Linked DNA regions of Homo sapiens: all the other regions are reported to be linked to region 3. Evidence: microRNA targets listed by miRTarBase, many of them from high-throughput screens and not tested one by one. Region 3 holds a microRNA gene; each other region holds the end of a gene's coding sequence.
The links. The annotated mature microRNA hsa-miR-6748-5p reads UGUGGGUGGGAAGGACUGGAUU and lies in region 3 at 2,164-2,185, opposite strand. An mRNA with a match to its seed (bases 2 to 7 or 8) in the 3' UTR can be bound and repressed. Matches are read on the target gene's strand: a 7mer-m8 pairs with bases 2 to 8, a 7mer-A1 pairs with bases 2 to 7 and ends in A, and an 8mer does both.

Region 1 (3,253 bases), not on the chromosome of region 3:
CCAATATTGTAGATATTGGTAGTATTACCAATAAAATATATGTCAAGGCCAGATGATATGTTTATCCAGAATAAAACTTAATTGCTTACTAGTAATCCCTTATAAAGGAAATAGGCAGACATGCTTTGACATTGTGACAACATGGAAAGTAAGTGGGTTGCTTTCAAAAGGGTTACATAATTGAGCAACTCTAAAACCTTTTTTCTTCTTCCTAGGTCTTAGTGGTGCAATGGCTAGTATAAGCGTGCGTTCGAGTACCCCAGGCTCTCCTACACATGTAAGCAGTGGATCGAATGCTAGTCGAAGGAGAAATGGACTCCATGATGTCGATTTGAACACTTTCATATCAGAAGAAATGGCACTCCACTTGGACAATGGTGGAACTAGAAAGCGTACCTCAGCCCAGTGTGGCGATGTCATTACAGACTCACCAACCCATAAACGCAACAGAATGATCTAAACTGCAAACATTTTCACACCCACCATGCTGCTTGAAAGCCACTTGATCCTCAACATATACTATAATTGCAAAGGAAACATGAGGCCATCTTCCCTTGTTCACTGTTTAAGACAAGTGAATTCTATAGTGGTTGCCATAAAAGGAAGTTCTAGGTATTTATAGTAGATGCCTCTTGTAATTATGGCTTTCTTAAAACTATAATCCTAGCAGAGGACATCAGATATTGTGTAGTCGTTAGCAAGATCATCATAGGCAAACATATATCCGTTCCAAGGCTAAAAGTGACCTTAACTGTATTTATTCTCAAAGGGAAAGGAAATATCAGATGTTTATTTGGTTATAGAATGCTTTTTTTTTTTTTGGGTCCATTTCCTGCTGTGTTGAGTATTTTGCTTCAACAGTATTGCCAGGTTCCTAAAATTGTCTAAAAACATGATTTGGCTTCCATTTTTGCAGCTGCACTGTACCATGCACCTGGTTTCTATATAGTAACAGTGTGCAATTCTAATTATTGGACTGTGCCCTGTTTTTAGTTTTCAAATCAATTTCTAATTCTGGTGATTGTGTGATGTAAAGAGGTGCTATGATGGTCATGCAATTAATACTAAATATTGAATCAATGCCCAGAGCTTTATTGGATTCACTTTGTGTGTGTTAGTGCTCTAAAGTAGCAGTATTATTATTAAACTGTCCCCAGAGTAACCCTGTAGGCCTAAAGTACTCAGTTTTAAGACAAACACTACTTCCCATGCGGGGTACTTTCCTTATGGTAAATGTAAACATGTAGACTGCATTCGAGGTGACCTAAAGTAGAGAGGTCATGAACTTTGAGAATGGGCTTCCTTTTTGGTTCAGTATTAGTGAGAGGGAGAGGGAGATGGATGGTGGGGTAGGTTTTCTAGTCTATCATTTTACATTTTTCATGGAGTCCCTGCTTAGTGCAGTTTCCATTGGAATGGGTGGAAGATGATAAAGCTCTCTTTTTTATCTACTAATAATGTGATTGCAACTTAAAATAGCAAAACCCAACTCTCCCTGTCCCTCCAATCCCTCTCCTAAAAAGTTCAGTTTGGAATCTCATTCTGGAAAAGATGGAATCGCATGGAGATTCTCTAGCTGTTAGGTAGACCTAAATAAAAAGTTCTCAATAGATTCCTCTTTTGAGTAAATATAAGACCTCTTGTAGCTACAATGTTTTAGAGCATGTTTCATCTTCATTTTTAATATCCTGAACTGAATGATAGTGTTTTTTTAGATGAAGAACTGATGTCAGCCTGCCAGGTACTGTAATTTATTCTATCATATTATTATATTATATATCAAGTAGGACAGTGAAAAATGTTTCCTTGCAAACTTGTAGTCCAGTATCAGTTACTTCCTATTTTTATCCTTAAAAGACCATTGCAAATCAGTGTAAGGGTTTTTCCAGTAATTACTCACAGCACTTTGTTAAAGTTTGCAATTTCTTCAGCCATTTAATAATATCTTTCTGTGAAGAAACTTTGCTGAGTTAACCATAAATGTTCATTCATTGACTGGGTGGGATGTGAATGGAATGTTAGAAATGTTGTGTGAATTGAAGTTCTGTATTCATTATAGATGTAGCCCTTATTTAAAAAAGTGAATTCCATACTAAAACTAGGAATGAAAGTGAGAGATTTCTAAACTTTTGCGAAAGTGGGTCATTTTTTGTTTGACTATAATAGCAGGAAGAATTATAGCAATCTGTCATTTTACCTGAAACAGACAAGCCTATGTATTATGAATACTTTCAAGCTTCCCTTTGGAATATACAAGACATGCGTTTGGAGTTACCTTTGTTTTTCTATCGTAAATTTAGATTCTGGAATTGGGGTTTGGTGGTGCAATGTGTTGCTCACAAGTGGCCAGAACTCCTATTCCTAAAAGGATTTTGAGATGGAGGAACACATATTTAATTCCCCTTTATGCCTTGGTTCTTGCTCCTCTTTCCACGTTGGATAACAATTTTTTGGTTGTTTTGTTTAAGTTGGTGCTCTGAAGCTTAATCTCAGTACCCTTTACTCTGAATTGTCAAATTTTGATAAAACGTGCCATTTTCTTTGGTAAGAGAAAGCAGGTCTTAATGTCTGCCAGAACACAATTTATATGCCTTATTGGCTTCATTAAACTTTTAGAAAACTTTAGCATTTGTTACTTTTTTCCATTGCGTTTACTTTCAAATGCACCTAATGAATTTGTCACCCAGTCGCAACTTTTCCCTTCTCTGTCCCATTGCTTTCTCCTTTCCCCGACGCACAGAATAAACATGAAGCTCAGCAGTAGAAGCGTAATGATTTCCCTCAGGAAAAACTTCTGACAGCTAGGTTTTTCAAGGGTTTCCCTGTGCTAGCTGAGATGCAAAACAAATCATGGAAGATTGCATACCTGTGTGGTATTTTAAAAACAAGTTGACTTTTTCAGTTTCTTGAACGGTTAAGGGTGGATTTAAAAACTAGACAGTTTAGTTTTGGGGAACAGAAGCTCTCTTCGTCTTAAGCCAGATTCTCTGATTCTTTTAGACGTCATAGCTCCTTAGTTCTGCTCCTGTCGCCCTAACTTGGCATGGGCAAGTTGAAGTTCATCCTTAGACTGCAGCGTTCTGAGCATGGCTGAAGTATTAAAATGTTTAATATTTTTTAGAGCAAAATTGTTGGAAAGCATTTGGCTGAATCTAAAGACCTGCAGTCAGATTCTTCAATGTGGTTTACCCAACTGGAGTAGTGATAAACACCTTAATCATAAAATGAATAAAAACAAAAAAACCATGGGGCT
Region 2 (3,253 bases), not on the chromosome of region 3:
AATGTGACAGGTTCCTGAAGATGATATCCCTGTTTTACATTTTGCCCAAAGAGAACACAGAGATTCTTTTTATTTAAAGGGGACGGGGTGAAACATGAACATTTGAGGCTGATTCCCTGTGGGAAAAATCATTCAAATCTATTCACTCATCTGATGGCTGTTGCTTGTTTTATTTTTTGTCCAAGAGAGGTGGTGTTGGACCGAGGTAGAGAAGACAGTGGTACACCAGAAATAACCCAAAGGATTGCCCCTTCTGTAGAAGGCCCTTAGACTCCATGATGCCTTTCAGCTGGGTGCTATACTTGCACCTAACTCTGGGGGCTTCACTTTCTATCCCTACAATTACTCAAACAGATAAAAGGCTGGATGTTAACATGTAGTTATAAGGGGCGTGATCTAATAGTAAGGAATATCACTTCCCACAAGTCCTTCAAACAAGATTTGTGAGGAGCTGGATTTGTCAGCATGTCAGATCTTTTTGAAAACCAGAGAGTAGAATGTAAGCAATACCCTTGTCGTAATTAAAGACCAGACTCCATCCTTATACCACTGATGCCTCTGGTACCTTAATCCTTAAAATATTTAGTGACCCTTGCCTTCTAATTCTTGACACAAATATATAATGACCATTTTAGATCGGGGAACTCCCTTTCTTTGAAGGCAGTTTAGGGATTCCACAGATGGGCTTTGAACCTGCTAAATGTGTATGGAAAACTGAGTGAATTACAAATGTCTTTTTCTCAAAAGTGCGTTTCTGGTTTCTGTCAGATTCAACAGGTCTGTACCCAAGACAGGTTCTGAACCATTGCTTATGCAGAGCTTTTAGTATTAAAGAGGGAGAGTAAAAGAAATGTCAGAGTCCAGATTTATCACTGAACCCAATACTTTCTTACTCCCTGGGGCATCTCCTAATACTGATCCTAAAATGCTCCTGTTTCTGAGAAGCTAGGGCAAGACCTGCCTTACAAAGACCAGCCATTTTGCCTTATTCATAGGATCATAAGCAAGAGAACTGCATTCCAGGAAGAATGAAGGAAGAAGGAAGGCTGCTCACAGTAGCAGAAGGGAGGCAGGGGCCAAGCTGTTCAAGTCACATAAACTCTAAGAAGCCCAGTCAGCAAAATAAGTCTATCTTCAATTCTAGTTGAGTCCAGGACTCTGAGGAGCTGTGATTCACCCAGTTTTTCCTGCAAAAGGCACAGTCGCTAAACTAAATTGGTGCAATTCACTTCCTCTTGCCTCTCTGGTTCATTCCACCAATTGTGGTTGAGAAACACATCTTAGGGAAGAAACAGTATCTAAGCATTAAAGAGAAAATATCCCACTTTGCTCCTCTTCCTCCCTAACCCCGAACTGCTCTTACATACAAGATAATTTTTAAATTATAAGATTGGTATTAACACAATTATTGATAAAGAGAAACAATGACCAACTCATTAGCTAACGATGCTAGAATACTTATGCAAGCCCTAGAGTTAAGGGTCTTAGTGTGGACACCTTTCCAGAATTGGAAGGAAAACCAACCAGAAAGCTTATTACCCTGCAGCAGCTGAAAAGCTAAGCCACAGCCATTTTCCCTAAAGTTCTGTTTCTGGGAGAATGAGATCTTCAAGAATAACTCTTGCCCCTTGATGAGGCAGTCAAATTCAAACCAGTGATGGCAACAACTTGCAAACACGTAATTCCTGCCCTAATTTTCCAGCACTTAAAACAAAATCCCCACTCAATACAAAGTTTCTATGTGCCTCTTGCCTGAAATCAACAAGAAACAGCTCACCTCCCCAAAGACTCCTCTTTCTCTGCCAGGGCAAAAGCAATCTGCAGCCCAGAGATTCAAACCTAGACATACACATCCACAATTGTCTTAATCTCAGCAGTACTGGGAAAGCTTTGTACTCAACTTAACCTGTCATTTAACCCTTTCCACTAGTTCTCCCTTAACCAGACTGCTTCCTGTCTTGAAACAAAGAAAAAACCCCATATAATCCCCACTACCCTCATCCCCAGAACACAGCCCCTAGAAAACCTAGCTTGTACAGTTTGCACATAGCATGCTGTCTTCAAAGACCCTGCACACAAATACACAGACACATAAAGACAGTCAAGAGGAGAGAGGGGACTGTTCAAGGGGATAAAGTTTTTTTTGTTTTTCTGTTTTTCTGTGTGGGCCAGGGCTATTTGGGGGTATTAGATCATCTCTTAGCCTTGTAGTGTGATCTCTCAGCTGGATATATGTATGTGCAGGATGAAGGGAGTAGGAATAATGGGTAAAAAGGTTATTTTTTCAGCAGGTGAGGGTGAGAGGTGATGTATATACTGCTGATTGGCATAAGGAAGACAGACCCACACATGAACAAGGTCTGGCCCCCCTGGCTTTCATATGGATAAAAAAGGGGGCTCTGGATGCCTGATCACTATCTCTTGTTTCCTTGTTACTCTCTAACCCAGTGTTCACCAGAGTGTTTCATAGTCACCAGTTCTGTGGGATGTAAATAGAAAGGATACTGAGGTCAAATACATTTAGGAAACACTGCCTTAATAGAACCTTCAGTTGGGTCTACTGCAGAAATTTTCAGAGCCTTTAATATTCTAAAATGGCCTTTCTGTCTATATATAGAGAAAATATAATAGTAACAGTATGCAAGAGTGATACTCAAAATGTTTAACAACTGGTATAGCATAGACTCCAACCAATCAGAATGGATTTCAGCCATAAACTGCCAGTACCACTCTCCTCTTGAGAACAGCTCAGGCTGAATATCAGCCCATGTAGGATGCATTGCTTCCCAAAAGTTTTGCCCAAAGAACTCTATTTTTATGTGCTATCTCACAGAACTGGTGAGAAATGCTCTGGCCATTGCTGGGACCTCATCTTTCTAGGGATGGGGTCAGGGCTTATGATTCTGGCCACTGGGGTTCAGGAGAACGGCAGCCCTGGCAGTGACTCCTGGTAGCACCGGCTGATAGACTTGACCATAGCTGTAGTGGAAACAGATTTCAAAAGACAGATGTTCCTCTGTCCCAGCTGTTCCGGGGACTTTGTCCCTGGTGGGTGAGCAGGTGCCTGTCCAGGTGATGTTTTCGGCCAAAGCTCTTCTCACAGCGAGGGCACTGGAAGGGCTTCTCCCCAGTGTGGGTCAGCCAGTGTCTCACAAGGTGGTGCCTTCGGCCAAAGCTCTTCCCACATTCAGTGCACACGTGACACTTTGGCACTGGTGGGGCACGCTGCCGTTTCCTTGTGCCAGGGCTCTCT
Region 3 (3,205 bases):
TCGGCTGGCCATGGCGGCGCCTTGGAGGCGATGGCCCACGGGGCTGCTAGCCGTGCTGCGGCCCCTGCTCACCTGCCGGCCCCTGCAAGGCACGACGCTGCAACGGGATGTGCTGCTCTTTGAGCATGATCGGGGCCGCTTCTTCACCATCCTCGGGCTGTTCTGCGCGGGCCAGGGCGTCTTCTGGGCTTCCATGGCTGTGGCAGCCGTGTCCCGGCCCCCGGTTCCGGTGCAGCCTCTGGATGCGGAGGTCCCAAATCGTGGCCCCTTCGACCTGCGCTCCGCGCTCTGGCGCTACGGTCTGGCCGTCGGCTGCGGCGCCATCGGTAAGACGTGGGCTGGCTTCCCACTGTGACAACGTGGGGTGGCGGGACACGACCTTCCCTATACAGGCAGGGAGAGTCAGGGACTCCCTATCCGAGAGTGGCGGGCGGGCTTTACCCCACAGAAATGTGAAACACTGGCCGGGCGCGGCGGCTCAAATGCTGGGAGGCCGGAGGCGGGCGGATCACTAGGTCAGGACATCCAGACCATCCTGGCTAACACCGTCAAACCCTGTGTCTACTAAAAATACAAAAAATTAGCTGGGCGTGGTAGCAAGCGCCTGTAGTCCCAGCTACTCGGGAGGCTGAGGCAGGAGAATCAATTGAACCTGGGAGGCGGAGGTTGCAGTGAGCCGAGATGACGCCACTGCACTCCAGCCTAAGCGACCGAGCGAGACTCCCCTCTCAAAAAAAAAAATTGGGAAACAGTGATGTCTCCGAGCGCCGTGCCCTGTCATAGCCTAGGCTGAGGGCTGCCCTTCACTCTGCGACCTTGAGCAAGGTCCTTAAAGCTCTCCATCTTCCCATTAAAATGGAAACGGACATCTATTAAGGTTGTTGGGAGGAATAACAAGATTACTGGGTATAACAGGAGCTCAGTACTGCACTCCAGCCTGGCCGGCAGAGTGAGACTCAGTCTCAAAAAAAAAAGCGCTCAGTAAATACTACTTTCATCCCACAAATTTCTTATTCAGAGGGCACTGGAAAGGTCGGTACTTAGATGCCCAGTGAAAACCCCTCACCCCAATCTCTGCCCTGCCTGCAGGAGCCCTCGTACTCGGTGCTGGTCTTCTCTTCTCTCTCCGGTCTGTGCGCTCAGTGGTGCTTCGAGCTGGAGGGCAGCAGGTGACCCTCACCACTCATGCCCCCTTTGGCTTGGGGGCCCATTTCACAGTTCCTTTGAAGCAGGTATCTTGCATGGCCCACCGGGGTGAAGTCCCTGCCATGCTACCTCTGAAAGTCAAAGGCCGACGCTTCTATTTCCTCTTGGACAAAACTGGACACTTCCCTAACACAAAACTCTTTGACAATACTGTGGGTGCCTACCGGAGCTTGTGAAGAAATGACCTCAAGTCACTCACCTCTCCAAGAGGAGGATAAAAACTGAACCTTGGGGAGCCAGGTGTGTTGGTTCACACCTGTTGTAATCCCAGCACTTTGGGAGGGTGAGGCAGGAGCACTGCTCGAGCCCAGGCTGGGCAACATAGCGAGACCTTGTCTCTATTTACAAAAAAAAAAACAAAAAAAAACGCCAATCTTAGAATGGAGTAACAACCAGGGTCACACAAGGAGGTCAAGATTCATTAACAACAAATAAAGGAGCAGTCATCCCTAGGGCAGCTGCCTAACAGTACCTCTAAGTTTCAGTCCATGTCTGCTTAGCCTTCACTCCTTCCTCCTATCTAGTTGTACTTTAACATCAAAAACTCACTACTAAGATGAAGACAGTAATATAATATTTTGGTACAAAAACAGCTGCAGGAAGAGGTGGAGGGGGGCCTGTCATTATGTTTCCCCCCCACCCCCCAACGAAAGGAAAACTAAGACTCCCAACATAAACAGGGCCTTGAGGGGGGGGATTACAGGCACTTGGGCATGGAGTCTTCGGCTGCAGGAAGCACTCCGCTTATTCTTCAGGAATGGGAAAGGCGTGACCCAACGAGAGCATCTGTCTCAGAGCTCCACTCAGGGTCACCCCTCTCCAGAGGCCGGTATGGGGTGGCTTCAGACTTCCACTGCACGACCTGGAGCACCAAGACCACACACCACAATACCAAATTCACCCAAGAAGAGGTCTGTAGGAGACAGGGACAGGATCGTCAGGAGTGGGACCATTTCAAATCCAGTCCTTCCCACCCACACACCACTCTGAACTGCTGAATTTTAAGCTGACAACCCCTTCAGCTCCTCTCACTGGTAGGCCAAGCTCACAATACACTGGTGAGCACCCACACAGCTACAGATATTTATGTCAGTTTTTCCTCCTATCCTTGGGTCTCACTTCAGCATTGTGTAGGTTGGAGTAAAACTGCAGAGCAGTTCCAGGGGGTGTCCATGGAATTTTCTGGGCTTCAGAACAGCTGTGAGGTCAAAGAGACAGTTGTGAGAAAGCGTGATAGTTTATATCCGAGGCACACCTGTGCCCAGTGCCCTGTGAGTTGAGAGCAACTGATGGGGATAAAAGGAAATTATAGGACCCCGCTGCAGAGGGAAGGTAGTCAGCCCCAGCCAGGCTTCCCTCCCTCTCCCATTACCTAATTGTAGTGTTCAAGGAGATGATGGAGTTGCAGAGAGACCTGGTGCCAAATCGAAGGATACAGGCAGACACCAAGACCAGGAAGACGGCTATAGCTGAGATGGCCAGTGCAATGCGCAGCCCTATAGCACCTCTGAAAGGGAGAGAACAAGCCTTGTGGTGGAGGTGAGGCTCATCCTACCTCAGCCCCTGGCCCTCAGGGTTAGGCAGTCACCTGTGGGAGTCCTCGATGCAGCTGCTGTAGATCCAGAAGAGCAAAAGCAGGAGGCAGTAGAGGGCCAAGAGGCCAGAGGCCCCAGCTACAAAGTAGCACAGGGATGGTGCTGAGGGACGGGATAAGGCCAGGGAGGAGCCATTCAGGGTGGCCACACCATACAGGGGACATCTACCACTGAAGGAGCCCTGTGGAGAGAAGCTGCTGAGTCCTAGATTTCAGGTTAATGTCTCTAGATACAGTCTCTTGGTAGGGTGTTAGTGATAACTTAGGAATGGTCCTGCATTCCAGGAAGTTATTTGTGCACCGTCAATTCCTATTTCTGGGACAGGGATATTGATGGAGAGGGCCTGCTGGGGAATCACACCGGCAGTGGCCAGAAGGATCAGAAAATAGGCAATGAATATAGAA

Region 1: the mRNA of HAPSTR1 is a reported target of hsa-miR-6748-5p. Seed matches in the 3' UTR shown: 7mer-m8 at 477-483.
Region 2: the mRNA of ZNF641 is a reported target of hsa-miR-6748-5p. The part of its 3' UTR that is shown has no 7-base or 8-base seed match.

What each region holds. Positions count from the first base shown.
Region 1 is chr16:9,116,453-9,119,705 of GRCh38, forward strand. HAPSTR1 (HUWE1 associated protein modifying stress responses) reads left to right here. Exons shown (of 4, transcript NM_014117.3): 4 at 216-3,253. The coding sequence ends at 460. Among named protein-coding and RNA genes, the nearest start is that of HAPSTR1, 26 kb to the left of the region's middle.
Region 2 is chr12:48,339,976-48,343,228 of GRCh38, forward strand. ZNF641 (zinc finger protein 641) reads right to left here. Exons shown (of 6, transcript NM_001172681.2): 6 at 1-3,253. The coding sequence ends at 2,998. Among named protein-coding and RNA genes, the nearest start is that of ZNF641, 9.3 kb to the right of the region's middle.
Region 3 is chr11:62,788,800-62,792,004 of GRCh38, reverse strand. It overlaps MIR6748 (microRNA 6748), which reads right to left and starts at 2,190; the gene lies at 2,120-2,190. It overlaps TMEM179B (transmembrane protein 179B), which reads right to left. Exons shown (of 5, transcript NM_199337.3): 2 at 2,795-2,982; 3 at 2,579-2,713; 4 at 2,326-2,404; 5 at 1,605-2,119. The coding sequence ends at 1,958. It overlaps TMEM223 (transmembrane protein 223), which reads left to right. Exons shown (of 2, transcript NM_001080501.3): 1 at 1-326; 2 at 1,090-2,034. The coding sequence starts at 11. The coding sequence ends at 1,382. RefSeq lists a silencer at 1-19 and an enhancer at 90-599.